Linked DNA regions of Homo sapiens. The protein of the gene in region 5 purifies or fractionates together with the protein of the main gene of each other region. This does not show direct contact. Each region holds a gene or a part of one and is shown on either strand. Other genes may lie near its edges. The genes, in order: TMLHE, CYP24A1, LARS2, MOCS1, SSC4D and TOP3A.

What was found.
Region 1: the proteins of SSC4D (region 5) and TMLHE purify together in Homo sapiens (affinity purification with mass spectrometry; one large-scale study listed by BioGRID and IntAct). This does not show direct contact.
Region 2: the proteins of SSC4D (region 5) and CYP24A1 purify together in Homo sapiens (affinity purification with mass spectrometry; one large-scale study listed by BioGRID and IntAct). This does not show direct contact.
Region 3: the proteins of SSC4D (region 5) and LARS2 purify together in Homo sapiens (affinity purification with mass spectrometry; one large-scale study listed by BioGRID and IntAct). This does not show direct contact.
Region 4: the proteins of SSC4D (region 5) and MOCS1 purify together in Homo sapiens (affinity purification with mass spectrometry; one large-scale study listed by BioGRID and IntAct). This does not show direct contact.
Region 6: the proteins of SSC4D (region 5) and TOP3A purify together in Homo sapiens (affinity purification with mass spectrometry; one large-scale study listed by BioGRID and IntAct). This does not show direct contact.

Annotation. Positions count from the first base shown.
Region 1 is NC_000023.11:155,493,776-155,498,889, forward strand, and holds part of TMLHE (trimethyllysine dioxygenase, mitochondrial isoform 1 precursor), read right to left. Parts: intron 336-5,114; exon of another isoform or gene 1-335. UniProt on the Homo sapiens protein: Converts trimethyllysine (TML) into hydroxytrimethyllysine (HTML).
Region 2 is NC_000020.11:54,163,622-54,168,735, forward strand, and holds part of CYP24A1 (1,25-dihydroxyvitamin D(3) 24-hydroxylase, mitochondrial isoform 1 precursor), read right to left. Parts: intron 2,213-5,114; coding exon 2,121-2,212; intron 943-2,120; coding exon 831-942; intron 1-830.
Region 3 is NC_000003.12:45,516,979-45,522,092, reverse strand, and holds part of LARS2 (leucine--tRNA ligase, mitochondrial), read right to left. Parts: intron 4,191-5,114; coding exon 4,021-4,190; intron 1,875-4,020; coding exon 1,797-1,874; intron 1-1,796.
Region 4 is NC_000006.12:39,906,136-39,911,145, reverse strand, and holds part of MOCS1 (molybdenum cofactor biosynthesis protein 1), read left to right. Parts: intron 1-1,190; coding exon 1,191-1,311; intron 1,312-2,043; coding exon 2,044-2,091; coding exon of another isoform or gene 2,092-2,099; exon of another isoform or gene 2,100-2,106; intron 2,107-4,028; coding exon 4,029-4,789; 3' UTR 4,790-5,010. UniProt on the Homo sapiens protein: Isoform MOCS1A and isoform MOCS1B probably form a complex that catalyzes the conversion of 5'-GTP to cyclic pyranopterin monophosphate (cPMP).
Region 5 is NC_000007.14:76,405,872-76,411,543, forward strand, and holds the start of SSC4D (scavenger receptor cysteine-rich domain-containing group B protein precursor), read right to left. Parts: upstream 3,827-5,672; 5' UTR 3,543-3,826; intron 1-3,542.
Region 6 is NC_000017.11:18,304,211-18,309,324, forward strand, and holds part of TOP3A (DNA topoisomerase 3-alpha), read right to left. Parts: intron 4,732-5,114; coding exon 4,672-4,731; intron 4,215-4,671; coding exon 4,141-4,214; exon of another isoform or gene 4,103-4,140; intron 3,286-4,102; exon of another isoform or gene 3,263-3,285; intron 2,757-3,262; coding exon 2,681-2,756; intron 1,011-2,680; coding exon 902-1,010; intron 1-901. UniProt on the Homo sapiens protein: Releases the supercoiling and torsional tension of DNA introduced during the DNA replication and transcription by transiently cleaving and rejoining one strand of the DNA duplex.

The DNA.
Region 1 (5,114 bases), on a different chromosome or scaffold from region 5:
CTTCTATCACCAAAGATTAGTTTTGCCTGTTTATATAAAACTTTATATAATTGCAATCACAATATGTATTCATTTTGTGTCTGGCTTCTTTCATTTAATATTATGTTTAGGAGTTTCATCATTGCTTAGCAATAGTTTATTGGTGCTATATGGAAGTTGAGTGCGTGATCACACCACAGTTTATCCATTCTACTGTTGATGGACATATGAGTAATTTCCGGTTTGGAACTACTACAAACAGTGCTGTTATGAACATTCTATTACATGTCTTTTGGTGAACAAATATATTCACTCCTATTTGAAATAAACTTAAGAATGGAACTTATGGATCATAAGGTATGTGTATGCTCAGATTTACTAGATACTGCCAAAGATATTCTTTCCAAAGATAAATTAACATCCAATGGTGCCATTTTTGGATATCTCAGGCAATATTCCTTAGTGTTAGATAGTACATGGCACAATCAGAGCCAACATTCTTAGTTTTGTTGCATATAAAATGAGCATAATAACATCTGCTTAGCTGATCTCACAGGGCTACTGCAAGAATCAAATGCAAAAATAGGCCGGGCGCGATGGCTCACGCCTGTAATCCCAGCACTTTGGGAGGCCAAAGCGGTCAGATCACCTGAGGCCAGGAGTTCAAGACCAGCCTGGCCAACATGGCGAAACCCCATCTCTACTAAAAATACAAACAAAACAAAACAACAAAAAAATTAGCCAGGCGCGGTGGCACGCGCCTGTAGTCCCAGCTACTTGGGAGACTGAGGCAGGAGAATCACTTGAACCTGGGTGGCGGACGCTGCAGTGAGCCAAGATCGCGCCACTGCACTCCAGCCTGGGCGACAGAGCGAGACTCTGTCTCAAAGAAAAAAAAAAAAAGAAAGAAAGAAAGAAAGAAAAAGAATATAATAGTCCATCCTCCCAGGCTTCAAGGAGCCATGCCTGGAGGGAGAATGGAGTGAGGAAGCACAGTCTTCACCAGGCTGTTGACACCCATTGTCATTTCCAGAAACTTCTAGTGCTGGGTTAGGCATTTGTGAAAATATTATTTAATTTACTTATTTCATCATCCCAGAAGGAAAGGTGTTATTAACCTCCTTTTACATTTAAGGCAACTGAAACTTAGAGACCTGCCACAGAGTTCATACGTAGCAGAGAGGTTTTGAAATCAGGTGTCCTTAATTCTTTAACTCATTGTTTATACCAGAGAACAGAAAAATGATCGTAATTCCTGTGTACGCTTGTTCATGAGAGCAACATTTTTACAGATCACACTTACAATCTTTTGACTTCAAACTGAGATTTGCAGTTTAGAAATGTTTCCATATACACTATCTGATTGACCCTCTGCATGATAACCACGTGAGGTAAGTAGTACAGCTGTTATTGTCTTACTTTATAGATAAGGAAAATAATGATAAGACCTTGTGATTTGTCCAAGCTTACATGGAATTTGGTATTCACTATTTATATTAGATGGTGGTGTTTTCTAAAGCCAACAGAGAAAGTAGCAGGAAAAGTCTATTACACATAAGCAAAATGGTTGTGCAATACTTTGGATTAGAATAAGACTATTTCTGGACTTTGGCACAAAGTGATGCCATCATATTATTGTGCAGTTTTTCCTTTTTTTCCTGCTTTGATATGAAGCAAGAGAGACGTGGGAGTAGGGGAAAGCAAATAAAGCAGGCATTTATCTGACAAGAAAAGCTAGGAAGATTTAACAAAGTTATCCTTCTTCTTAGTTGACAGACAAGTATTTCCCAAGAGAGCTCCATAATTGAGCAGACGATGCATTTGATGGATTTGTGTATTGTGGTGTAAGTGAAAGCTGGTGGGCTTTCAGATAGGTAGATAAATAGGCTTTCAGTTAGATCACCATTACAATCTCAGTTCAGGTGTGTGACCTTGGAGGAGCTATAGAAATTATAAAAATGCTAGAAGAAAACCTCGGGATGACTCTCCAGGATAATGCTCTGGGAAAAGATTTTATTCCCCAAAAGCACAGGAAACAAAACCCAGAAATAGACAAATGAGACTGGATTAAACTAAAGAGTTTCTGTGAGGCAAGGGAAACAATCAACAGAGTGAAGAAACAACCCACAGTATGGGAATATGGCCATTGTAGAATGGCTGTTATTACAAAGACCAAAAATGACAGACGTTGGCAAGTATGTGGAGAGAAAAGAACTCTTATACATTCAATAAACGGTGCTGGGGAAACTGGATGTCCACATGCAGAAGAATGAAATTAGACCCTTTTCTTACAACATATACAAAAATCAACTAGAAATGGATTAAACGCTTACATGTAAGACCTGACACCGTAAATCTACTAGAAGAAAACACATGGTATAACTCTATGATATTGGTCTATACAATTACCTTTTGGATATGATCCAAAAGTATAAGCAACGGAAGAAAAACTAGGTAAATGAAATTGCATCAAACTGAAAAGCTTCTGCACAGCAAAGGAAACAAAAGAATGAAGAGACAACCTGCAGAATGGGAGAAAGTATTTGCAAACTATACATCTGATAAGGGGTTAATATCTAAAATATTTGAGGAACTCAAACAACTCAATAGTAAGAAAACAAATAACCTGATTTAAAAATGGGCAAAGGATCTGGATAGACATTTCTCAAAAGAAGACATACAAATGGCCAAGAGGTATATGAAAAAGTGCTCAACATCACTAGTAATCAGATAAATTCAAATTAAAACCACCACGGGATATCATCTCATACGCCTTAGGATGGCTATTATTAAAAAGACAAAAGATAACAATGTTGATGAGGATGTGGAGATAAGTGAACCCTTGCACACTGTTGGTGGGAATGTGAATTAGTGCAGCCATTATGGAAAACAATACGGAGGTTTCTAAAAAAAGCTAAAAGTAGAACTACTACATCATCCAGCAATCTCACCACTGGGTATATACCCAAAGGAAATGAAATCAGTATGTCCGAGAGATATCTTCCATGTTCTTTGCAGAAATATTCACAATAGCCAAGATATAAAATCAATCTAGGCAGAATACATGGGAGTGTATATAGAGAAAATGTGGTATGCATAAAAAGTGGAATACTATTCATCCTTGAAAAAGAAGAAAGTCCTGTCATTTGTGACAACATGGATGAACCTGGAGAACATTAAGTGAAAATAAGCCAGGCACAGAAATATCAATACTGCATGATCTCACTCATATGTGTAATGTAAAAAAAAAGTTGATATCATAGAAATAGAGAGCAGAATGGTGGGTACTAGAGGCTGGTGGGTTGTGGAGTAGTGGTTGGGTGGTTGGGGATATGTTGCTCAGAGGATACATAATTTTAGATCAGAGAAATAAGTTCAAGTGATCTATTTTTCCATGTGATGACTATAGTTAATAACAATGTATCGTAATTTGAAAATTTCTAAGAAACAGTCAATCAACGGAGTGAAGAGATAACTCACAGAATGTGAGAAAATGTTTGCAAACTATGCATCTACAAGAGATTAATACCCGGAGTATATAAGGAACTCAAACTCAATAACCAAAAAAGACATATTCCCTTAAAAATGGACAAAAGTTCTGAATAGACATTTCTCCAAAGAAGGCAGACAAATGGCAAATGGGTATATTTTTAAATGCTCCACATCACTAATCATTAGGGAAATGCAAATCAAAACCACAATATCACCTCACCCCAGTTACAATGGCTATCATTAAAAAGACAAAAAATAGGCTGAAAGTAAGGATGGTTAGTATGTACAAACACAGAGAGAATGAATAAGATCTAGTATTTGGCAGCACAATAAGGCAACTATAGTTAACAATAACTTATTGTATATTTAAAAATAACTAAGAGAGTAGAACTGGAGTGTTCCTAACACAAAGAAATAATAAAGGCTTGAAATGATAGATACCTCAATTATCCTGATTTGATCATTACATATTGTATGCCTGTATCAAAACATCACATGCACTCCATAAATATATACAACTATTATTTACCCATAATAATTAAAAAAATCAAAATTTAATTTAATAACATAAAATATAATAAAGTGATCTTAAAAGAAATTTGCCCGTGGTTAGATATTACTTGTTACACTTTAATTGATGATTTCTATTATAATTTCATAGTACTTAGAATATATATATATATTAGAAAATATCATCTATAGGATTTTTGCTTTCATGAGGGTAATGATATTTTAAGCCTAAAATATTAGAATTTTCAATAATTTTCTCTAGTGTTTGGAAATTATTTTAATCCTCTGTTTAGTGCTCAAAAATGCTGTTCATTTGTGACTGATTAGTTAAACTTTCTAATAAAGTGATTTTACACTCTTTATGTTAAAGAAACAACAAATGCTGGTGAAGATGTGTAGAAAGGGGAAATCTTATACATTGTTGATGGGAATGTAAACTAGTACAGGCAATATGGACAACAGTACTGAGGTTCCTCAAAAAATTAAAAATAGAACTAGCATATGATCCAAAGAACTCACTACTGGGTATTTTAAAAGGAAATGAAATCAGTATGTTGGAGAGATACCTGCACTCTCATTGTGATGGTTCAATTTACGAGTCAGCTTGACTGGATTGAGGGATGCCAAGACGGCTGTTGAAACATTGTTCCCTGGGTGTGTCGGTGAGAGTGTTTCCAGGGGAGCTTGGTGTGTGAGACAGTGGACTGCAACAGGTAAGATCCACTTTCAATGCGGGCGTGCACTGTCCTGTTAGCTGGGAGCCTGGTTGGGACAAATAGACAGAAGAGGAGGAATTCTCTCTCTCTGCTCATCCTATCTCCCTTCTGCAGCCAGATTTCTTTCCTCCTCCTGTCCTTGGACATCAGACTCCAGTTTCTTCCACTTTTGGACTCTGGGACTTGCATCCACAGCCTCCAGTGGGCTCTTAGGCCTTTGGCCTCAGACTGGGGTCTGTACTCTCAGCTTCCCTAGTTCTGAGGCTTCCAGACTTGGAGTGAATCGTGCTACCAGCTTCTTCGGTTCTGCAGCTTGCAGATGGCCTATTGTGGGACTTCTCCATCTCTATAATCATCTGAACCAACTACACCTCATAAATCCTCTCTCATATATCCTATTGGTTCTGTCTCTCTGGA
Region 2 (5,114 bases), on a different chromosome or scaffold from region 5:
TTATAGGTGTGTTGTGAGGATTAACTAAATGTGTAAGTGAACAATGCCTAGCATCAAATATTCCCCTTCGTCATGTGGCAGAAATAGATCTAGTCCACGGAGATACTGTGATATGCCAGGTTTTTATGTTAACTGTAATCTGTAGTAGACCCAGAAACAGTTACATTGAGGTAGGTTCTCTTATTATTATTATTAATTATTAGTCCATTTTAGAGACAAGGCAACTGAGGATGAAAAGGTGATTGCACATTTGGCCAAGCCACCACAACCAGTGACAGAGCTGAACTTGAACTCAGGAGTCCCTGACTCTATAAATTTTACTTTTTTATTTTGAGATGGAGTCTCACTCTGCCTCCCAAGATGGAGTGCAGTGGCTCAGTCTTGGCTCACTGCAACCTCCGCCTCCCAGGTTCAAGCAATTCTCCTGCCTCAGCCTCCTGAGTAGCTGGGATTACAGGTGCCCACCACCACGCCCAGCTAATTTTTGTATTTGTAGTAGAGACTGGGTTTCACCGTGTTGACCGGGCTGATCTCAAACTCCTGGCCTCAAGTGATCTGCTCGCCTGGGCCACCCAAAGTGCTGGGATTACAGGGGTGAGCCACTGCACCTGGCCAGATTTTACTTTTAACCACTCTTAATTCCCAAAGAAGACTACAGAAAGCTTGTTACTTAGAATTTGTGTATGCTGGGGCAATCCCCAAAACACCTGTGTTTGCAAAACCTAAATGTGGTGATGAGGCTCAGGAGATCACTCCAGACCTCCTCTCTGAAGCTCCAGACACGGGGGTGCTGGGCTGGTTCTGGCTGGTTGTGAAGGGCGGCCCTTTACCTGATTTGAAAATGGTGTCCCAGGCCAGAGTGTGGTCCTGCCAGACCTTGGTGTTGAGGCTCTTGTGCAGCTCGACTGGAGTGACCATCATCCTCCCAAACGTGCTCATCATCTGAGAGAAATGCAAATGCCTTTTTATTCTGAATTCTCCTTCTCTCAAAGACAATGTTCGTTCTGGAAGAGGAACATTCTAAACCGCAGCACCCTGCACTTTTTAAAAGGCTGGAATTACAAGGACACCCCCGGCTCTCTCTGCACCGGTCCTGGGAGCAATGCCCGTACCCCACCTCCACCTCCTTTCAATATTGAAGGTAATGTGGGGGATGATTTTCCACTGGATGTGTTTGATAAAAATTGTAATCTTATGACCTAATTGTAAAAAAAAAAAAAAAAAGAGGAAAAACGATAACTTTCATATTCACTTCAATTTCTAATAATTTCCAAACTTCAGTGATTTCCAAACCAATTTCACAGCGTTTATCCTATCTACACGCCACCCAAACTATTCAAAAAGATAAAATCTGAAAAATTTTGGGCTCTTTTTAAAAAGTATTTTTAATCAACTGATCTTTAATTAAAATAGCTATTTTAACCTTGCCTAAACAAAGAAATAATGGATTTAATGTGCTTCTTTATGTTACGTGCATATATCCAGGGGTCCCCAACCCCCAGGCCGTGAACCAGTACTGGTCAGTGGCCTGTTAGGAACGGGGCCGCGCAGCAGGAGGTGATCAGCGGGCCAGCAGGTGTTACCACCTGAGCTCTGCCTCCTCTCAGATCAATGGCTGCATTAGATTCTTACAGGAGTGTGAACCCTATTGTGAATTGCCTATGCGAGGAATCTATGTTCCACACTCCTTATGAGAATCTAATGCCTGATGATCTGTCACTGTCTCCCATCACCCCCAGATGGGACTTTCGTGTTGCACGAAAACAAGCTCAGGGCTCCCACTGATTCTACATTATGGTGAGTATATAATAATAACAGAAATAAAGTGCACAGTAAACGTAATGCACTTAAATGATCCTCCCTCCCCTGCCCCACCACCCTGCCCTGTCCATGGAAAAATTGTCTTCCACGAAACTGGTCCCTGGTGCCAAAAAGGTTGGAGACAGCCGCATATATGCACATAAATATACTAAAATATATAATGCACATTAAAATGAACACTTAACTATTGAAATAAAATATGTGTGTATGCCATTTTTTGGGAATCACTGTGAAGTTCTGTAAAAATCGATCTGTAAAACATCAATCAAGAAAACTGCTTTCTTAAAGAGGCTGCTTACTGTTTTGATGGCCATGATGAAGTTCACAGCTTCATCCCCTGCATTCTTCTGGAGAAGCCCAAATCTCTTCTCATACAACACGAGGCAGATACCTGTCATTTAAAATAATCATCACTTTACACAAACAGCAATGCTGGAGTTGGAGTCTATGTTTAGCTGGTTATTAAAGACTCAATTCTATGCCTCTTAAAAGTGTGGGATTTTCTGAGAAAAGGCAACAGTCCAAGAATATTGAGGAAAAGCAGAGTCTGAGAGAAAGGGGACACCATCACTTTCTTTTTCTAGAAATTATCTCCAGGTCCAATGACTCATCACCTCAGAGTGTCATGATCAGAGATCCACTGTCCTGATCAAGTCACACAGGAGATCCAGGGGCCCTAGCAAAGGTGCTGCAGGGTCGGGTCTGCACTCTGCCTCTAACCCAGCTGTGTTTTTAGAGTCACTTATTGGATTCTATCTCCTGACATAATGAATTGGAAGCCATTCACCAGAGGAAGAGAAGGGAAGGGAATAATTATGTTCTAAACACCCATTACACGCCAGGTACTGGGCTAGCACTTCATATAGGGTTTTTTTTCCTTCCATTTCATCATTTTATTTAGAAGGAACCTTTTTACAAATAAAATTCTCAACTCTTCATTTCAAAACTTTTTACCTAGAGAAAAGTTGAAGGAATGGTAAAATGAATACCTGAATCCCCCGAACTCATCAACATCTTGCTGCCATTTCTTTCTCTTTGTGTGTATGTATGCATACAAGTGTATACGTGGTTGTGTGTGCTGAAGCATCTGAAAATAATTTTGAGCTCTCAGGTCACTTCACCGTTAAATACTTTAGCAGTAATGTCCTAAGAATAAAGCATTCTCCAACATAACCACAATGTCATTAACATCCCTAAGAACCTTAGCGACCATTCCATAAAAAATCTACTGTGTCCCATTTTAAAATGTTCCCCATTGTCCTAAAAATTATCTCTTGTAACCTTTTTTTTTTAAAAAAAGGACACAGGGCCGAGCGTGGTGGTTCACACCTGTAATCCCAACACTTCAGGAGGCTCGGGCAGGCAGACTGCTTGAGCCCAGGAGTTCGAGAATAGCCTGGGCAACATGGCAAAACGCTGTCTCTACAAAAAAATAAAAATAAAAAAATTATTCAGGCATGGCTACATGTGCCTGTAGTTCCAGCTACTCTGGAGGCTGAGGTGGGAAGATCTCTTGGGCCCAGGAGGCCGAGGTTGCAGTGGGCCGAGATCATACCACTGGCCACTGCACCCTAGCCTGAGTGACACAGTCTGGAAAAAAAAAATTATACAGGATTACTGCAACCAACTTTTTAGTGGTGGATAATTGGCTCTTGACTTATAAAGTAGGAGACTAGCATTAAAAAGGTAAACAAATGGCCTAAAATCATAAACCTGAGGAGTGAGAGTCAATTAGCTTAGTCAGCACCCACCCACAGCTTTTCCAACTACCTCCATGTTTTCCAAACTCTACTTATTTCTTCCCAGCCTTTCAAGGTTTCCCCGTATTTGTGTTCCACAGTGGTTGGCAGGTACACCACTGGGAATATGTGAGATAGCTCTGGATGGTACATGAACTTTAAAAATAATTAGTTACTCTGCTGGGCACAATGGCTCATGCTTGTAATCCCAGCACTCTCAGAGGTGGAGGTGGGAGCATCATCTGAGGTCAGGAGTTTGAGACCAACCGGTGGCAAAACCCCATCTCTACTTAAAAAACACAAAAGTTAGTCAGGCGTGGTATCGCACGCCTGCAATACCAGCACTTTGGGAGGCTGAGGTAAGTGGATCACCTGAGGTCAGCAGTTCGAGACCAGCCTGGGCAACATGGTGAAACCCCATCTGTACTAAAAAACACAAAAATCAGCCAGGCATGGTGGTGTGCACCTGTAGTCCCAGCTGCTCAGGATGCTGAGGCAGGAGAATCGCTTGAACCCAGGAGGTGGAGGTTGCAGTGAGCCGAGATCACGCCGCTGCACTCCAGCCTGGGGCAGAGTGAGAGTCTGTCTCAAATAAGTAATTAAAAAAAGTTACTTATATTTATCTATTTATGGCAATATTTCTGACCTTGAATTTATGGAAGTGTTATAGGTTTTCCTTCTATCCCTCCCATCAGCAGCCACAGTGATCCTCCCAGTAAATCTGCCCATATATCACACTGCTGCTGAATACATTCCCGCAGCTCCCGGTTACTTACAGGCTAAAATTCAAACTCCCGCTCATACAGCCCTCCATGAGCTGGCTGCTGGCCCTCTGCCAGCCTCTGTTACAGGATATGCTTGTCATTCCGCACTTCTTCTGCAGGGACACTCTCCTTCCTCCCTTTTCACCTGGTGAACTCCTACTCAACCATCAGGACTTAGCTGAGGGGCACCATCTCTGTGAAGCGACCCCTGGCCATGTCCGGCTTAGGTGGCCCTCTCAGATTCTCCCACAGCCCTGAATGTCCTCAGCCAGGCGCTGTCCCACCTGATCACAGCTGCCTGCTCTCCTCTTGCACCCCCATGGGCAGTGAGCTCTGCCCTTTATTTCCAGAGTAATCTTTGAAGAAAGCGGTCATGTCCTCCCTCCCTTACTTGCCCCATCTGAGTCAGATGAGAGGTAAAGTCTTGCCAGGACCTATGAGCTGTGCCCTGTTGGACACCTGCCTTCTTTTTGACCTCATCTCCTTTCACAGGCTCCCCTTCCTCCCAGCTTGTTCATCGTGATCCACTCACACCAGCAGCTTGAAGTTCCTCAAACTCGGCGCTCATGCTTCCACCTCCTGGCATTTGCACTTTCTTCTCTGCTGCCTGGAACAATCCTCCACAGGTACCCTCATGATTTGCTCCTTCCCTTCCTTTAGGACTTACCTCAAATGTCTTCTTACTAAAAAAGACTTGCCCCTCTTTCATTCTTTCATGTTATTTCTTTCTCTCTCTCTCTTTTCTTCTTTATTTCTTTTCTTTTTTCTTTCCTTTCTCTTTTTCTTTTCC
Region 3 (5,114 bases), on a different chromosome or scaffold from region 5:
CGCTTTGTCACCCAGGCTAGAGTACAGTGGCACCAAACAGCTCACTGCAACCTCAAATTCCTGGGCTCAAGGGATCCTCCCGCCTCAGCCTCCTGAGTAGCTAGAACTACAGGTGCATGCCACCACACTTGGCTAATTTTTAAATTTTTTACAGATGAAGTCTTGTTATGTTGCCCAGGCTGGTCTCAAACTCCTGAGCTCAATCGATCCTGCTGCCTCGGCCTCCCAAAGTGCTGGAATTACAGGCATGAGCCACTGTGCCTGGCCCTGAATAGTTACGTTAAAGTATTCTCAGCAAATTTGACAGGTATTTAAAAAAAAACAAAAACAAAAACAAAAGCATCTTGTTTTAAATTTGCCTTTCATGATAATTAGAGAGGCAGACTTTTTTTTCTCCACAAATGTATTGGCTATTTCTATAACATTTTCTATGAGTTATTATCTTTTCATATGCTTTGACCATTTTTGGTTAGGTATTTTCATATTAATATGTAAGAGTGCTTTACAAGGATATTAACCTTCTGTCTGACATGTTATAAATTTTTTTAACATACTGAAAATGTCAAGTTTTATGTAGTCAAATTTGAAATTTCTTCCATTGTTCTTTTTTATCTTTATTTTACTTTTTAAAAATTACCCTTTTAATTTTATTTTTAGAGACAGAGTCTCCTGCTCTGTTGCCCAGGATGGGTTCAAGCGATCCTCTCGCCTCAGCTTCCCGAGTAGCTACAGCTACAGCTGTATGCCACCATGCCAGGCTAATTATTTTATTTTTTTACTTTGTTTTTGAGGCGGAGTCTTGCTTTGTCGCCCAGGCTGAAGTGCAGTGGCGTGATCTTGGCTCACTGCATGCTCCGCCACCTGGGTTCACACCATTCTCCTGCCTCAGCCTCCTGAGTAGCTGGGACTACTGGTGCCTGCCACCACGCCTGGCTAATTTTTTGTATTTTTTAGTAGAGATGGGGTTTCACTGTGTTAGCCAGGATGGTCTTGATCTCCTGACCTCGTGATCCGCCTGCCTCAGCCTCCCAAAGTGCTGGGATTACAGGTGTGAGCCACCATGCCTGGCCTAATTATTTTATTTTCTACGCGGCCCAGGCAGGTCTTGAACTCCTGGCCTCAAGTGATCCTCTCAGCTTGGTCTTCCAAAGCGTTGAGATTACAGGCATGAGCCACTGTGCCTGGCCCCCACTGATCTTAAAAGCTTGGAGAGGACTTCATTTTTAAAAAGCATTTGTTAATAGCTTTAATGAATGCTTTTGTTGTCCAGTAGCTAAGAACATTTGTTGACAAATCCTTTCCCTGGCAAGAAAAATGGTAGTCACACTTAGCAAGAAGGAAGTCCATACTGAAAAGGCTGACTTTTGGCATTGGTGAGAACGATCCTGATCCATCCAGGTTAAATGAATATCAAATGTAATGATGCCGAGGAGGTATCACAATTCATTCATGAAATCAGACAGCGGGGGTGCAAAGAGCCAGAAGACAGGGAGGCCTGAGTCTGGTCCTAGATTTGTCACTAATCAACCAGACATGTCATCTAACTTCCCTGGGCCTCAATGTCCTCATCTGTAAAATATTGGGGGAGAAGGGGGTTTGGACCAGAAAATCTTTAAGAACATTCCAGCATAAAACTAGGTTGTGACTATGGAAAAATGTTTCCTTAAGATAATCAAGCCACACTGAGGCGGTGACACAGTGGGGGTGCTCTCTGTCCCTCTTGGGACCCTGTGGGGCCCCTTGCCACACCTCTCCCTCCCTCCTCTGCTACCAGCAAATGAGGACAGGCCACTTACCGAGAGGGCATTGCTGAGTCCCATCAGCTGAGAAATTGCAGAATTCAGTGAGAAGTCCTCTGTGAAATGGGTGGTCACCTATTAGTAAAGGTTCAATTATTTACTTATTTCAAAATTCTTTTAAGCTTTCCACAAAAAGACTGAATTATCAAAACAAAAAAAAAGGAAAATGAATGGGATGCAAAGATATTTATAAATATATCTACTATCTCAAATAATCGCTATGTTTCATCTACACAAATATTTTAAAATTCAAAGTCAACACTGTTTCCACTGTTTAAGACTATTCTTCCACATATCTGGGATACTGTTGGTTCTCATAGTAGGTGCTTAGAAAAACAGTGCTAGTGGCTGGGCACAGTGGCTCACACCTGTAATCCTAGCACTTTGGAAGGCCGAGGTGGGTGGATTACTTGAGGTCAAGAGTTCGAGACCAGCCTGGCCAATGTGGCAAAACCCCATTTCTACAAAAATACAAAAAATTAGCCGGGTGTGGTGGCGCATACCTGTAATCCCAGCTACTTGGGAGGCTGAGGCAGGAGAATCTCTTGAACCTGGGAGGTGGAGCCTGCAGTGAGCTGAGATTGCGCCATTGCACTCCAGCCTGGGCAACAGAGTGAGACTTTGTCAAAAAAAAAAGCAATGCTAGTAACATGAATAGGACGCAGGACCCACTGATGGGTAAACTCAACATAACAGAAAACAGGAATAAAGGATGCCACTTCTGCTTGGTTATGTGACTTTGCTTCACAGTGACGGTTTTTAGAATATGGGATAAGGTTAATTTTACTTTTTTTTTTTTTTTTGAGACGGAGACTCGCTTTGTCACCCAAGTTGGAGTGCAGTGGTGCGATCTCAGCTCACTGCAACCTCTGCCTCCCAGGTTCAAGTGATTCTCCTGCTTCAGCCTCCCGAGTAGCTGGGATTACAGGCGCGTGCCACCACGCCAGGCTAATTTTTTGTGTTTTTAGTAGAAACGGGGTTTCACCATGTTAGCCAGGATGGTCTCAATCTCTTGATCTTGTGATCTGCCCGCCTTGGCCTCCCAAAGTGCTGGGATTATAGGTGTGAGCCACTGCGCCTTGTCAATTTTACATTTTGAAATGTACAGTCAACATAAGAACATTAACACAGCTTGTCAGCTTTTTCATGTTTCTGTGCTTTTCCATTTTGACTATAGGCAAGAATACAGAAAAGTAACACATCTTTAAGGATGTCAAGAGTTTCCAACTTGTTGAAATAACCTAATTCTTTTATCTGACAGAATAGAAGAATTTGCCAAATCCAGGGAGAAAATATGTGGTATGAACTCAATCGCTCAGGCATCACTCAGACCCCTACATTCATTCAGGGAGCTCTGTTCCTCCACATAGAGAGGGTACAGAGGCCAGAAATAAAGCTGAAGAAGTGTCAACAAATAAGACCATGCTGGACCCAGGGCCACTTCAGGTTATACAAACCAGAGAGGCAAAAACCTGCCATGCATCATTGTGTTCATTATCAGAGTGCAGATGAGCGACACTGATTAACTTTATGTCTGAATCAGCATAACTTTTTTTTTTTTAAATCAGCTTAAGAAGAATTTGGGATATCAGATACCCATTACAATGACTTCAGATTTGCAGAAATTAACCCACAATAGTTCACATGGATATTGTGTAACAAAGTAACTGAGTGGGAAAGTCCTCACTATGTGGAGGACTGGGATTCTAATCTCTGCTCAGTTCCTCACTAGCCGTGTGACGTTAGGCAAGATATCTGGACATCATCTCTGTCCCCATCTGTACAATGAGGAGGCTACAGAGGATAGTTTCTTAATGCCCCTTCCAACTCTAAAATTGTATTTCTGTTAATGTAACATATGCGGTGTCATCCTGGATGACAGGGTGATCCTGGATTTGGTTCTCTGCTTGGATGTGTTAAATGTGGAAACATGGAAAGTGGCAGCTTCCTGAGACCCAGGATGGACAAATGTGAGACATCATCAGAGAGCCATTTCCTGGGGGCATCTCTTTCCATTAGAACATATGCACTGTTGATCCACCTTGGTAAAGTACCCAAAACAGTAGGGCCAATCAATCAAAGCAAGAAGGACCGCCATTGCCAGGAAGGAAGACCCACAGTGGCCCAACCCAAGGCAGGGAGGGCAGCAAAGACCACAGGCAAAGGTTCCCAAAGAGTGCTTGGTTACAGAGTTAACCCCTGGAATTGGAGAGTTTCTGACCTGAGAGATGACGGAGTTCTTGTACTCCCAGAGCTTCCTGGCCTCAGCTTTCTCCTTGTTACTCAGCAGCTGAGGCTGGGGAGACTTCCCAGAAGCCCTGGCCTCAATAAACCGAGTTGTCAAGGTCCACAGTCGTTGTTGCCATCTCAGCACCCCAGGGAGAGCATCAGCTGAATTCAGCATCAGTAAATGAGAAAGAGAGAGCGTGCAACATAAGGGTGATTGACTTGGTATAACTAAGCAGAGAAAAACACCTGTGAATTGATGTGACACTTCACTGCACCCTGATGGATTCCTCTGAGGGCAGGCTGAAGGATCCTCCCTGGCCTTCAGTGTCTGAGAATTCAGACCAGGACCAATTCTATCTCATTTTAGTGCCCAGATTCAGAGCACTGGATGGCAGGGCCACTCAAAGTGCCACCCACCAACGGTCATGAGCTCAGAAGCTTGGTCAAGATGAGCCCTGGTGCCCCGCCGCCTTGATTAAGCAAGCTTGCTGGGACAAAAATGCCATGGAGTTAACATGGTGCTTTGGAGACAGTGCTGACTCCTGCTGGTGCAAGCTCTTACCTTGTGGATAGCATGACTGTGCTTGCAGCCACACTGCTGTAGAGTGTGAAGTGCATTGGCACAATCCCTGTCCTTGCAGGTATGTGTGTTTTCCATATTTTACACAAGCTCATCCAATCCAGCTGCTGGTCTGATCTTCTGGTAAAGCTGAATGGCTTTACCTGGTGGCCCTGGGTTATACCAGTAGCCAAATTAGGGTCAGTCCAGGTCCTTGTACTGTCTGGCCACTAGGCTAGGCATTCTCAAGCCTGAATGCACAGCAGAACCTTCTGGGAGGCTTCTTAGAAAGATTCCTGGAGCCTGTCCCCTGGGTTAGGGGTGGGAGCCAGAACCTCCACCTGTCTGTGCTTTGCAAGCCCCCCAGTGATTCTGAGGCAGCTAGTTCTAGGACTGGCATCTGTGACCACTGTTCCAGACCACACTTCCCACTAGCCACAGCTAGTTGGAAATCAAAATAAACAGTGATTTCTCAAATGACATGGATACTTCACACAAGGCTCAAGTTTCCAGGCATCTGACTTCCT
Region 4 (5,010 bases), on a different chromosome or scaffold from region 5:
TGAAGAGAATGTAATGAAGAAGCTATTTATAACATATAAGATTAAGGGAACCAATAAAGGATATTGAGGTACTTGGGACCAGCAGCAGCAAAGTGCTGTTCCCACTTAGGAAGGGCAAGGGGGAGGCACTGATGTCACTGGGGCCCAGGAAGGGCTGGAGCCTTAGAAGAGAGGCCACCTCATTGGCACTTGAGCTGTGCAGAGAAGCAGCTGCTGCCAGATACATCAAAGCAGGGAGGAAGTAGGGGAGAAATGCCTGAAGATTGTTCTTTCCCTTTACCCATTGATCTCCCAGGCAGGAGCCAGCTGGGGGGCGGGAGGGGAGGGTGGTACCAGGTGAAGTCCACAGGAGGAACCTCTTTGTTGCAGAGAAGGGAACCTGGAGGCTGGTTGGGGAGCGAGGCATGAGGAATAACAGGCACGCTGAAGCAGTTAGACCTATCCTAGATTTCACTGGTATCTTCTCCAGTGGTCTCTGCCTGCAGAAGCTTCTCAGACATTCTTCTTTCTCTGTGGCCACAGTGCCTTGTGCAGAGCTGGCACAGAGTAGATGCTTCATAAGTTTTGGTGGAAGGATGGTAGGTATATTGATTTCTGGGGCTGTCTCATCCATCCCTCTTACAGAAGCTGAGAAGCATTGAGTGAAGTTTGACCTTAAGTTGTCATGCCCAGCAGCCCTCAGCTGAAGCTTCCAAGCAGTGATCACAGACTCAAATAGGTACAGGGCAGTCAGGTGATGTCCACAAGGGACTTGGAGGGGCTGAGGTGAAATGGGATGTGTGTGCCACAACAGGGGTAGGAGACTTCCAGGACACACACAGCTCCAACTGGTTGGGGGCCATTCTCATGGTGATAAAGTGGCCATTCCAGCAAGTGTCTCAGAAGGTAGAGATCTGGATTTTTACATGCTATCTCTGTTGGCATCTACTTAGTTTTTTAAAAATACACTGAGGGAAGTATGACTGTAACTCACATATAGGTATTGGGAAGTCGAATTTTGCCTCTTGCTCTTCTAGCCTCTCTGACCTCCCTACAGCACCTCTGTCTCTCACTGCTAGGGGCCCTGCCATGGGAGGCCTGGGCCCTGGTGCTCCTCCCGGAGGGAGAACCAGGGAAGGAGTTAGCTCCTCAGAGGCCAGGAGGCCAAGGCTCAGGGGTAAGGAAGGCATATTGTCCTCACCCACATGTAGGTCTGCCTCTTTGGAAACTCTGAGGTATCCCTGCGGGATCACCTGCGAGCTGGGGCCTCTGAGCAGGAGCTGCTGAGAATCATTGGGGCTGCTGTGGGCAGGAAGAAGCGGCAGCATGCAGGTAAGTGCAGGGTGGGGAGGGCTGGCCTGGATGGTGAGTGGGCCTTGTCCCTGGGAGGGAGGTGTGGAGTTGTGGGGTGAGATGACCAAGGAACACCTAGGGGGAAGCTGGCGAGAGTCAGCATCATCCCCACTACCACTCACTGCTGTTGGCCCTCTGGACTCAGGGTACAGTGATGCTTCTCCTTCCATGGGGAAAAGTCATAGCAGAGGCTGCACAGGAGAGGGGACCCCAGATTCTCTTGGGCTGTTTTACTAGGTGGGGAGAAGGGGGTGTCATTGCTTCTTTCTCATCCCACACGTGGCCTTCTGTTTAGGGAGGGCAGGGTCCTGATGTCCACAGACTGTTCTTTGGGCTCAGCCTTGAGCGACCTCGCAGTGCACATGTGGGGGCCTTTTGTCATACAGCTGAGTGCATGTGCTCGGGGCTGTCAAGCGCGTTTGTTTCAGTGAACTCTCCTCTCCCCGCCCTGTCCCTCTCCCGCTCCCCTGCTTTCCTCTCCCTCTCCCCTTCCCCTGCTTTCCTCTCCCTCTCCCCCTCCCCCTCCCCTGCTTTCCTCTCCCTCTCCCCCTCCCCCTCCCCTGCTTTCCTCTCCCTCTCCCCTCCCCCTCCCCTGCTTTCCTCTCCCTCTCCCCTTCCCCTGCTTTCCTCTCCCTCTCCCCCTCCCCTGCTTTCCTCTCCCTCTCCCCCTCCCCTGCTTTCCTCTCCCTCCCCATCTTTCCCTCACCCCAGGCATGTTCAGTATTTCCCAGATGAAGAACCGGCCCATGATCCTCATCGGTGGGTGACCCATCAGTACGTAACCACTCACCCTTGTCATTTGGGGATCTCGTGGGGTGGGAGCCGTGCCATAGGCACCCCCAGCTCCTGCATTTCATGCTGATTTCTCATCCTTGTTTTTCTTCTATTCCTCCTTCATCTCTTCTTAACCTTCAAGGTTTTACTGTTTCTTCCCCCACTGTTCATGATCCCCCTTACTATACCTGCCACAGAAATGATCCTTCTGTCTCACCAGACATCAGAGCAGGGGGATGGTCTGCCAGATTTAATGATCACTAAGTTAGTGGCTCCCTGAGAATTGAAATCCTGGTTAAAACAGAGGCCTTTTCCTCGGCTCTAAAATCTCCCATTTGGATAATGTGACAGGTGTCCTCTGTAGTACCCAATGATCCATGCACGGTGTATCTGGACCATGAGCCCCCACGGGTGGATGTGTGGCCAGACGTCTGTGCTGGGCAGATCTTGAGGCAGCAAGTTAATAATGTTACTCACATGTAACATGAGGTAATGATGGCCAAGACCTCAACTTCCCAATTCCTTAACTCTCAGGAACATCTGCATAGGATGTATCATCGTGTGTGTAGGATGCTTCAAACAAAAGCCCCCTGGTTTTAAGTCCTTATGTGGTCTCCTACCCCTGGGGGCTGGGCTGGTCACTGAGGAGCTGTAGGGTGGCTGTTGCCCCTCTGTCACGGTGCCCAGATTATAGCAGGTGAGGCCTTGACCCTTTGCTCGCAGTCAGTTCTGAGCCCCCTGAACTGTGCCACTAGGAAAGAAAAAGCAGGGGGGAGAAAAGATGAGAGGAAAGATCCTTTCTTTAGAGGTTAGAGCAGAGGGAACTCAGTGGCCCAGAGGGGAAGGCAGGCTAGAGACAGCCCAAGGACCATCTTTGCCCACTGGCTGCCCGGGAAAGCAAAGGTAGCTTGCCACTGGGAAGAAGACTCTCATCTCCTCTCCTCCCACCCCCAGCATCCAAGTCCTCTTGTTGGGCCCTGACCCATGCTGAGGCACCTTCATGGCCTTGATGGCATCTCCCCAGAAGGGAGGCTGCCCCTCTGACATTGACATGTCTGGGGCTTAGAGTATGATGCGAAGTGGGAAGCTGGGGGAGCATTTGCCTCATACTTTCAGAGATATTGAGTAACCAGTCTGCTTTCTATACAACCAAGAGTTGCCTAGGACAGGGCCTCTCAGAATTTCATGTGCATGTGAATCACTGGGGATTTTGTCCTTTTGGATTGACTTGGAAGGTCTGGGGTGGGATTCTGCATCTCTTGTGAGTTCTCAGGTGGTGCTGGTGCTGCTGGTGCTGCTGGTCCATAAGCCAACCACCCTTTGAGTAACAAGAGCCTGCACCATTCCCTAGGCCCTCTGCACCATCTGAATTAGCCCGTCAGTTTGTATGTGCTTCTCATGTGCTTCAGGGGACTTGAAAAACATTTAAGTAGATCACAAATTCCCCTTATTATCTTGTCTGTAAACTAAGTGGTTATATTAACTCTTCATGGAGAATGTGAAGATAAAAATAGGTGTAATTGGTAATTTAGAGTGAGACCTAGCTCTAGTTTTAAGAAAATGAAGGGACATTCAGAGGTCATGTGATCCAGGCCTCAACTTGGTGCTGCTTGAGAGAACTTGGGAATTGAGAAGGTTTTCATGTGGAGGGAACCCTGTGCCACGGTGGCACAGCAGTTTCTAGGAGGGCTGTTACCCTGTACATCACTGGGTGAGAAGGGCTGTGAACTTGGACTCTGGGTGCCATCTATCTGTGGATCTTCTACTTTGTCTTGTCCCACTATGCTTTTTGTTCTTCATTCCTCTTTCCCCGGTATGAAAGAGAACTTGAGGTGGGATAGGGAGAGGGTTGGGGAGTAGAGGTGGGAAAAAGAATTGCCTTTTGGACTTAGTGTTTCTTCTCTTTTCTTCTTGCCTTGCAGAGTTATTTTTGATGTTCCCCAATTCCCCACCAGCCAATCCAAGCATTTTCTCCTGGGACCCGCTCCATGTTCAGGGTCTAAGACCCAGAATGAGTTTCTCCAGCCAGGTGGCCACTTTATGGAAAGGATGCAGGGTCCCCCAGACCCCTCCTCTAGCCCAGCAGCGGCTGGGGTCTGGCTCCTTTCAGAGACACTACACTTCCCGTGCAGACTCAGATGCCAACTCAAAGTGCCTTAGCCCAGGTTCCTGGGCTTCTGCTGCCCCCTCAGGACCCCAGCTAACCTCAGAACAACTAACTCATGTGGACTCGGAAGGACGGGCAGCTATGGTAGATGTGGGCAGGAAGCCAGACACAGAGCGGGTGGCTGTGGCTTCAGCCGTGGTCCTCCTGGGACCGGTAGCCTTCAAGCTTGTCCAGCAGAACCAGCTCAAGAAAGGAGATGCCCTAGTGGTGGCCCAGCTGGCTGGAGTCCAGGCAGCCAAGGTGACCAGCCAGCTGATCCCTCTGTGCCACCACGTGGCCCTGAGCCACATCCAGGTGCAGCTGGAGCTGGACAGCACACGCCATGCCGTGAAGATCCAGGCATCTTGCCGGGCTCGGGGCCCCACCGGGGTGGAGATGGAGGCCCTGACCTCTGCTGCAGTGGCCGCCCTCACCCTGTATGACATGTGCAAGGCTGTCAGCAGGGACATCGTGTTGGAGGAGATCAAGCTCATTAGCAAGACTGGTGGTCAGCGGGGGGACTTCCATCGGGCTTAGCACCTGCCCTTCTCACCCATGGCCCACCCAGGCCTGGAGCTGGGATGCAATGTAGGCTGAGGGAAAGACGTCAGGTTCCTTTAATCACAGTCACTGTTTGTTTACCTTGAGCAGTAAACCCGAAGTCAGCCTGCTCTACTACTAACAAACAGGCCTGCTGCTAGATGATCTCTAATGACCAATGGGGCTTCCTTTCTATAGGGAGGATACCAGCAGGCCCT
Region 5 (5,672 bases):
TGTTTTCTTTCTTTCCTTCCTTCCTTCTGTCCCTCCTTCCCTCCCTCTCTCCCTTTCTTGCCTCCCTCCCTTTCTTTCCTTCCTTCCTTCCTTCTTCCTTTCCTTTCCTTTCTTTTCTTTTCTTTTCTTTCTTTGATGGAGTCTCGCTCTGTCGTCCAGGCTGGAATGCAATGGTGCGATCTCCGTTCACTGCAAACTCTGCCTCCCGGGTTCAAGCGATTCTCCTGCCTCAGCCTCCTGAGTAGCTGGGATTACAGGCACCCGCCACCACGCCCGGCTCATTTTTTGTAGAGATGGGTTTTCGCCATGTTGGCCAGGCTGGTCTTGAACTCCTGACCTCAGGTGATCCACGCGCCTCAGCCTCCCAAAGTGCTGGGATTACAGGCATGAGCCACCGCACCTGGTCTGTGCATTCGAAATATAGTATTGGTGCCACGGACAGCAACCCACTTAATTTGGGAGGATATAGATACTCATGTATTGTTTTATTTTCAATAATTCTTTTTAAATTGTACAATGCCTTCTAAAAAGGACTCTGGTTTTCCGTTTATCAGAACAATATAGTCTCCCTTTCAAATTAATTAATTAATTTTTTTTACTTTAAAGAATTTTTTTATTTTTTATTTTTTACAGATAGGGTCTCACTCTGTCACCCAGGCGGCAGTGCAGTGGCATGATCATGGCTCACTGCAACCTCCCTATCCTGGGCTCAAAGGATCCTCCCGTCTCAGCCTCCTGAGGAGCTGGAACTGCAGGCTTGCACCACCACACCCAGCTAATTATTTTTCTTTTTTTCTTTTTAGTAGAGATGGGCTCTCGTGCTGTGTTACTCAGGCTGGTCTCAAACTCCTGGCCTCAAGTGATCCTCCTGTCTTGCACTTTTTTTGTTTTTAATACCCCAATCCTAAATCAGAAAAAAAAAAAAATCTTCAAGGCCTTTCCACCCAAAATGGGCCGAGCATTGTAAGCAGCGTTTAGTCTCTCAGACCTTCCTTCACTTTTTTTATGTATTTGTGTGTCATGGTAACTATGATTTACTTAATATTTTTCTCATTTTATTGGCACATTTCTTCTGATTTAAATTATTTATTTATTTATTTATTTTTGGAGACAGAGCCTCCCTCTGTCACCCAGGCTGTAGTGCAGTGGCCTGATCTCAGCTCACTGCAACCTCCACCTCCTGGGTTCAAGGAATTCTTCTGCCTCAGCCTCCCGAGTAGCTGGGATTACTGGCATGTGCCACCATACTCGGCTAATTTTTGTATGTTCAGTAGAGACGGGGTTTCCCCATGTTGACCTGGCTGGTCTGGAACTCCTGACCTCAAGTGATACACCCGCCTCGGTCTCCCAAAGTGCTGGAATTACAGGTGTGAGCCACCAGGCTTGGCCCTGATTTAAATTAACTCTAGGCCAAGTGTGGCAGCTTACTCCTGTGAGCACTTTGGGAAGCTGAGGCGGGAGGATCTCTTTTTTTTTTTGAGACAGAGTCTCGCCTTGTCGCCCAGGCTGGAGTGCAGTGGCACAATCTCGGCTCACTGCACCCTCCACCTTCCAGGTTCAAGCGATTCTCCTGCCCCAGCCTCCTGAGTAGCTGGGATTACAGGCGGGTATCACCACGCCCAGCTAATTGAGGGAGTATCTCTTGAGCCCAGGATTTCAAGACCGGCCTAGGCAACATAGTGAGACCCCATCTCTACAAAACTAAAAAACAATTAGCTGGGCATGGTGGTGCATGCCTGTAATCCCAGTGCTTTGGGAGGCTAAGGCAGGAGGATCACTTGAGCCCAGGAGTTCAAGGCTGCAGTTAGCCATGATCATGCCACTGCACTCCAACTTGAATGACAGAGTAAGACCCTGTCTCTAACTAAAAAGAAAAAAAAAGTGCATAAACCATGAGCTTAGAGCTCAAAGAGCATTCACACCATGTAACCAGTGTCCCAGAAGCCTCTCTCACGTCCCCTTTTCTTGCAGACTTTTAGCAAGGGTCTGATGCATTGTGTGCACTGTGGACTGGTTGGTTGGGGAGAGATGGGAAGCTGGTTTAGAGGCTGATGCAGTTGTCCAGACTCTAGGCCATAGGAGGCAGAGAGGAAGGAGAGATGCGAAGGATATGTGGGAGACTGAACTGGCAGGACTGGGCTACTCTTGGTGTTGGGGGTCAGGGAGCTAGGAGCATCCATTTGGCTCCCAGCCACCCTGATGGGGACTTTGTAGGAGGCGGCGGTAGAGAGGATGGTTCTGTTTGGGCTACACTGAGAGTGGGACTGGGGGACATGGGTGCTTGTCCCAGAAGGAGCTCCCCACCATCCCTCCAACCCCCTCCTCTCTCTGGCTTTACCTGTGCCCTGGTGTACAAAGTCTGGTTGGGGAGAAGATGAAAGCCTATCTGGATGCAGACACAGGGATTTCAACACCCCATTCATGGGGCCCAGGACAGCCCCCAGTGGAATAATCACCTTTTGTCCTCCTTCTGCCTGGACTGGGGACAGCTGGGAGATGGGAGCTGAGAACCATGAGGAGGGGGAAAGACACAGTCCAGTCTTTGCTTGTTGTGGGGGGGCACATAGTTATCTTGGCCTCCTTTTGCCTCCTGGCCTCAGTGCCACCCACTTCTCAGGCTGCTGGGATACTGGCCCCCCAGGCCAGATCAGCCCCCACCCTGGGGACAGGCAACTTCCAGAGACCCTGCCAGGAATCCTCAGCTTCCCCACCTCTATCCCCTGCCACCTCAGCCCAGGCGTGAGGGAGAAGGACCCCCGATCCTGATCCCCACAGATTTCAAATCCCAGGTGACCCCAGAGCCCTCTGCCAAGCCTGCCTCCTACCCTCCCAGCTCCAAGGTGGGCCCCTCCAGTCTGCTCCTGCTTCACGCCCAAGGGAACACTGGCAAGACAAGGCTTCATCCCTCCCTGTCCTTGGTGATTAGGGCTCTTGAAAGCCCTCCCATCCCTTCATATCCCTTTCAGAGTCCATCTGTTGCCTACATTTTCTACAGTACAGCCGGCAGCCTAACACAGCGGTTCATATTGCAGCATCAGCTCCACCATCTCCTAGCTGTATGACCTTCACCTTGCAAAGCCTCACTGTTCTCATCTGTAAAATGGCTTTCGTGATCCACTTACCCCTTATCATTTTTGCCAAGTTCAATGAGCAAATGTTTTCACAAGGCTTAGCCCAGTGTCTGGCCCACTCTAGGTGTGGTAGCTATTGTTATCATTACTGTTTCTCCATCGAGACTGCAGACCCTTGAGGGTGGAAACCAGATCTCATTCAGTGGTTGCCCTTGGCACAGGGTGGATACTCAGGAAATGTTTGTTGAGTGACTGAATCAAGGTGATGGCTACAGAATCATAGAAAACAGCAGCCAGAAGGGGCTTGGGAGATTAACAAGGACAATTTCCCATCTGACCAGTGGGAAATGGTTGCCTCTCTCTCTCTCTCTCTCTCTGTCTCACACACACACACACACACACACACACACACACACATGCATGCACACGCACACACACACAAACACTCCAGCAAAAGTGAAGGATTCATACCTGGGGGAATGTTCTGGGCTCTTTCTGTCCCTTCTTCTACAGTCAATCCAAGATCGAATCACTTTGTCTGCCCCTGGAAGTTTAGGAGGAGGAAGGATCTTCCAAATGGAAATCAACACAGGCGTTTCTTCTTTTCTTTCCACAGCTGGAAGGTGAGCAGAGGCAAAGTCCCTGTCCATGGAGCTGGCTGGTGGCCCCAGCCTGTCCCCATCCGACCTTAGGGACAGCAAGAAGCAAAGGGGAGTGGAGGTGGCCGGCACCAGCTGGAGCGGCCCCAGAAAAAGGGCACCCAGGTGGAGGCGGAGCTATGTGGTTGGGGGAGGCATGGACTCTCAAGGCCAGGCAGCCCCTCCTCCCCCCACAGCCCCCCCACCCCAGGGTTCAGGTTTCAGGAAGGCCTGGATAGGTCTCCACCCCTTTGCAGGGCAGCCAAGCATCCTGATCTTTGGAGGTAGCCCTGATCCAGCCCAGGAGTCCCGCCTGATGATGTCCCGACCCACATCTCAGCTGAGGGTTTGGAAATGGTCCCAGGAGCCACAGTGTATGGAGTGGGTTTCCCACATAGACAGGACCTCACAACCTCACTTGGGGGCTGCTGATTTTGCCTTCTTTTTTTTTCTTTTTTCTTTTTTTTCAGACAGAGTCTCTCTCTGTCACCCAGGCTGCTGGAGTGCAATGGCACGATTTCGGCTCCCTGCATCCTCCGCCTCCCAGGCTTAATCAATTCTCGTGCCTCAGCGCCCGAGTACCTGGGATTACAGGCATGCACCACCATGCCAGGCTAATTTTGTATTTTTAGTAGAGACTGGGTTTCTCCATGTTGGCCAGGATGGCCTTGAAATCCTGACCTCAAGGGATCCGCCTGCCTCGGCCTCCCAAAGTGCTGGGTTTACAGGTGTGAGCCACCGCACCCAGCCTAATTTTGCCTTCTTGTGTAGTTCTTTTTTTTTTTTTTGAGATGGAGTTTCGCTCTTGTTGCCCAGGCTGGAGTGCAATGGTGTGATCTCAGCTCACAGCAACGTCCGTCTCCCCGAGTTCAAGGGATTCTCCTGCCTCAGCCTTCCAAAGTGTTGGGATTACAGGCATGAGCCACTGCACTGGCCAAAAAAAAAAAATGTTGAGAAGCTCCTGAGGATCAAACAAATTGGGGACCAGTCCCAGCTTTTTATGGTGAGGCTGGGAAGACTGAGGCCAAGGGAGGAAAACAGGTGGCATGAGTGTGGGCCCGGCAGGACTTAATTTCCTGACTCCTGGTCATGATGCTGTTTCCTATTTCTTGGAAAAAGAAAGTACTAGATGTACCAGGCGAGGTGGCTCATACCTGTAATCCCAGCACTTTGGGAGGCTGAGGTGGGCAGATCACTTGAGGTCAGGAGTTCGAGACCAGCCTGGCTGACATGGTGAAACCCCGTCTCTACTAAAAATACAAAAATTAGTCAGGTGTGGTGGCGGGTGCCTGTAATCCCAGCTACTCGAGAGGCTGAGGTGGGAGAATCGCCTGAACCCGGGAGGTGGAGGTTGCAGTGAGCTGAGATCGCACCACTGCACTCCAGCCTGGGCAACAGAGCAAGACTCCATCTCAAAAGAAAAAAAAAAAAAAAAAAGAAAAGAAAATACTTGATGGAAGGCTGCCATCACCATGCTGCAAAATCTCCACGCCCCTGCTGCCCGCACCTGTCCTTCCTCCCTCCCTCCTCCCCTGGCCTGGGGAAGCCCCTTCCCTGAAGTCCAGATTCCATTCCTTCCGTCATCTCAGGGACCTCTTTCCCTCCATCTGCACATCTATCTGTCTTCCATGTTCAGCTGCTCCTTCCCAATCAGATTTTTCGGTTCCTAAGCAAGCTCTCGTCTTTCCCATTAAAGCAAACAGTGGCCAGGAGTAGTGGCTCATGCCTGTAATCCCAACACTTCCGGAAGCAAAGGCAGGAGGATCGCTTGAGACCAAGAGCTCAAGACCAGCCTGGGCAACATAGGGAGACCCCATCTCTATAAAAAATTAGAAACATAGCCGGGCATGATGGTGCGCACTGGGCTGTAGTCAGTTACTTGCAAGGCTGAGGTGGGAGGATGACTTGAGCCTGGGAGGTTGAGCCTGCAGTGAGCTATGATTGTGCCACTGCACTCCAGCCT
Region 6 (5,114 bases), on a different chromosome or scaffold from region 5:
TGCCTCAGCCTCCCAAAGTGCTGGGATTACAGGCATGAGCCACCGTGCCTGGCTGCCTTTTGCAACTTTAATCTTACTTGCTCTCTCAGGCCTTTTGAGAAAAGAAAAATATTGTCAATTAAAGGGTTCTGTAGGGGAATTTCATGTCCCTTCAGCAAAGAATATAGGACATATACACACTGTCCTTGAAAGTTAATGCACTTAAATTTCCAGGAGTCATTACAGCTTTGAACACAAAACCACTAAAGGAAAGTAGCAACCCCACCCTCTGAGCCAGAGAATGGCCTGTTCATCACTCCCTCTAAGTTACCCAAAACCATTAACACTGTTAGAGCCTTTAAATCCACTGCAACAATTATTTATTAATAGTCGAGCATTGTATAATATGAGAGATTAAAAAAGAAAACAGAACATTTTATAATTATTTTTTGTACTTTACTTGTGGTATATTCATTCTTTTATACATATTCAATATGTAATTTTATTTTTCTATTTTTGCTTCCATTAACCAAATACTAAAAGAATTCAATATATAACAACAACAACAACAACAAAAAGAATATAAAGTCCCTGTTCTCAAGGAGCCGGGTATCTGCTTGTATGCTTGTACCTAACAAGAAATGAGTCCTGGGCTAAATGGTTTACACCACTCATTAACTCATCTAATCTCTGTGGCAGTCCCAGGAAACATGTCAGATTGGCCTGATGTTAGAGACAAGGAAGTTGAGGCTCCCAATGGCTCAGTGATTTGCTCCAGGACACATGGCTGGTGGGACTCACAGACTGGGAGGGAGAGTACCTGCAGAGGACCTCATCCGTGGCCCATGTGCACATATAAACAAGAACACTCTATTTATGGAGTTCCAAAGTAGAGAAAGTCAGCAGCAGCAGCAGCACTTACCAGCCTTACACACGTGGATAATCTCAAACCCGATGTTTTCGCCTTCTCTATCACAGTCAGTCCAGATCACCAGAGCCTGGCACTGGCGAGTCTCTCGTTCCAAAGTTTTCTTAAGTTCGCAGTGGAATAAGAGTGGTGAGAACAGAATTGCACAACAGTGACTTGACATCTCTAAGCTAAGGGGATCTGACTGAAGGTTAATGCTGCTCTTGGAGTGTGACAACTTGGCAAGGGAAAGAGAACAGAGAAAACTGCTCTCATTGGTGCTAATCATGATACAACCCCTTAGAACCATAAACGAGTTTCTAGAATAGAGGGTTTAATATAACTTCCCCAATATGACAAAACCTGAAATTCAGCTCTAACACACACACACGCGCGCGCGCGCGCGCGCACGCACACTTCGAGAGGTTCTGATTATGACCTAGTTAAAAAAAACGAAGCCGGCTGGGCGTGGTGGCTCACGCCTGTAATCCCAGCACTTTGGGAGGCCGAGGTGGGTGGATCACGAGGTCAGGAGATCGAGACCATCCTGGTTAACACGGTGAAACCCTGTCTCTACTAAAAATACAAAAAATTAGCCGGGCATGGTGGCAGGCACCTGTAGTCCCAGCTACTCGGGAAGCTGAGGCAGGAGAATGGCATGAACCCGGGAGGCGCAGCTTGCAGTGAGTCGAGATCGCACCACTGCAGTCCAGCCTGGGTGACAGAGCAAGACTCCATCTCAAAACAAAACAAAACAAAACAAAACAAAATGAATCCCAATTGAATTTCATCCAAAGTTTTATCAGTTCTCAATAAATTAACTGGCCAGGCTCGGTGGCTCACACCTGTAATCCCAAAACTTTAGGAGGCTGAGGCGGGTGGATCACGTGAGGTCAGGAGTTCGAGACCAGCCTGGCCAACATGGTGAAACCCCATCTCTGTTAAAAATGCACAAATTAGCCGGGTGTGGTGGCAGGCGCCTGTAATCTCAGCTACTTGAGAGGCTAAGGCAAGAGAATCGCTTGAACCTGGAGGCAGAGGTTGCAGTGAGCTGAGATTGCACCATCATACTCCAGCCTGGGGGACAAGAGCGAGACTTCGTCTCAAAAAATAAATAAATAAATAAATAAAAATTAAAAATAAATTAACTATACATGCCCTGACTGCTTGACAACTGGCAATTTACTGTCAAACAGGCATTTATACTTTGTAGCCTCTTTCATCTAACAAGGGGTGAGATGGGGGCTACGCGCTAATAATTTACAATACTTAGGATTATTTTTTGATAGGGTCTCACTTTCTCACCAGGCTGGAGTGTGGTGGTGTGATTACGGCTCACTGCAGCCTCAACCTCCTGCCTCCTGGGATCAAGTAATCCTCCTTCCTCAGCCTTACTAGTAGCTGGGACTATAGGCATACATCACCATGCCTGGTTAAATTTTTTTTTTTTTTTGAGAGATAGGGTCTCACTATGTTGCCCAGGCTGGTCTCAAATTCCTGGAGTTCATGTGATCCTGCCTTGGCCCCACAAATTGCTGGGATTACAGGCATAAACCACCATGTCCAGCCTTTATTCCTAGGATTTAAACAACTACCATTCATAAAAAAAGTTTACTTCAGTCCCTTGGCCACTTAGCCACATTTATACAATGGGTGGGAACCAGCTTTTTAAATCATGGTAGTGACTTTGGTGGAAAACCTTATCTCCAAATGCCAATGCATTAAAAACAAAGAAATCACTCTGTTTGACTCTGTGGTTTGACTCAGTGCCATATGTCTTCCAAAAGACCCTACCTTGATGTCTACAAAATTCTCTGGGCAGTACTTTTCAATTTCTGCTTCAAAGAGGACAAGAGGGTTGCAGCTCTGCCTAGAAAAGAAATGAAAACAGAGTCCCAACTCAGTACATGACAGAGAGCCCTCCAATCTAATGACAGCAAACTGTTCCAATGGGTTCATGGTGTATCCCCAAAAGAAAAGGTCCCGGTGAATTGAAAGTAAGGCTATGACCCTCTGCATGACACACTGTCCACTTCTCCAAGAGTGTGAACAGGACTGATAAGATGGCATTCTGGAGCCCTTTCACAGGTAAATGCAATCCAATGGCTGCATGAAAAAGGTCTGGCAATTTTGAGGAACACCAAAAGTGACTGTTTAAAGATTTAATAAAAATTCACAATGGATCAGATAATCCTAGGTCATCTTAGTATTATAAATTACTGCTGGGCGTGGTAGCTCACGCCTGTAATCCCAGCACGTTGGGAGGCCAAGGTGGGTGGATCACGAGGTCAGGAGATCGAGACTAGCCTGGCTAACACGGTGAAACCCCGTCTCTACTAAAAATACGAAAAATTAGCCAAGCGTGGTGGCAGGCACCTGTAGTCCCAGCTACTCGGGAGTCTGAGGCAGGAGAATCGCTTGAACCCGGGAGGTGGAGGTTACAATGAGTCAAGATTGTGCCACTGCACTCCAGCCTAGGCGACAGAATAAAACTCCGTCTCAAAAAATAAATAAAATAAATAAATAAATAAATAAATTACCAAGGCACAGTGGCTCACGCCTGTAATCCTAGCACTTTGGGAGGCAAAAGAAGGCAAACCCTGCTTTGTTTAAGACCAGCCTGGGCAACAGGGTGAAACTCCATCTCTACTAAAATAGAAAAAATTAGCTGGGTGTAGTGGCACATGGCTGTAAGGCCAGTTACTTGGGAAACTGAGGCATGAGAATCGCTTGAACCCAGGAGGCGGAGGTTGCAGTGAGACGAGATTGCGCCACTGCACTCCAGCCTGGGTAACGCAGCGAGACCCTGACTCAAAAAAAAAAAAAAAAAAAAACCGGGCATGGTGGCTCACGGTCTGTAATCCCAGCACTTCAGGAGGCTGAGGTGGGCAGACCACCTGAGGTCAGGAGTTCGAGACCAGCCTGGTCAACATGGTGAAACCCTGTCTCTACTAAAAATACAAAAACTAGCCAGGTGTGGTGGCACGTGCCTATAGTCCCAGCTACTCGGGAGGGTGAGGCAGGAGAATCACTCGAACCCAGGAGGCAGAGGTTGCTGTGAGCCGAGATCACACCACTGCACTCCAGCCTGGGAGACAGAGTCTCACTCTGAAACTTTGTCTCCAACAAAAAAAAAAAAAAAAAAAAAAAAAAAAAAAAAAAATTACCCAGTAAGATCAACATGCCTCAAAATTCCTGTGAAATTTCACAACTTACTATAATCTGAAAGTCCTTCCCTTGAGAATTGTACTGACCATTTTCGAAACTGCATCTGGAAATCATGAGCCAGTAAATGTCCAGAAACTGAAGTCATTACCATGGTAACATTCTGAATGATGACAAAATTCAAAATTCAGTTAGTCTTTTTGCAGTTATTATTCTGCCAAATCATTAAAATGAGAGGGAGGAGCTTCTATTAAAGACATTTTTAAAAACCTGATTGGGAAGAAATAAACATAAATATAAGCTCTTCAAAGCCAAAAGTCACAGGAATACAATCACCATTCTAATGATATGGTGTATAACTGACGCCTCTTGCATCAGTTAAATTTTCCTCAAACTATTGTATATTAGCTTTTTTTTTTTGTAATGAAGAGCTGAGATGGGACCATATTTTATTAAAAAGAGAACTCCTCATAAATTATAAAGTGATCACCCCATATCCAGGAACCTTTAGGTTGTTAACAGTTGTTATTCTTAAGACAGCGACATATTCTACATATGACGAGGCTGACTACTTTCTCTTGCTTATGATTGAAATATTTTAGAAATATTTTAGCACCTACCTGGCCATACAGATGATAATCAAATTCATAGATCTTGTTGAATTTTGAAAGTCCTTCTCTCTATAAAACAAAAATAAGTAAAAAATATAAATTACGTTTAAAACAATGGATTCCTTTGTATAATTCTTTCTGATCCTGAATTTGGCAATGATTTCTTGGTTATGATACCAAAAATATAACCAACATTGCTCCAAAGAAGATAAGAAATGGCCAACAAGCATATGAAAAGATGCTCAATGTTATTAATCATTAGGAAAACACAAATCAAAACCATGATGAGGTACCACTCCATACCCATTAGGATAATAATTAAATAGAATAATAAAAAAAACAAGTAAAATAACAAGTGTTGTTGAGGATGTGGAGAAATTGGACATTGTCAGTGGAAATGTAAAATGCTTTGGCCACTCTGGAAAATGTTGGTGTTTCCTCAAAAAGTTACA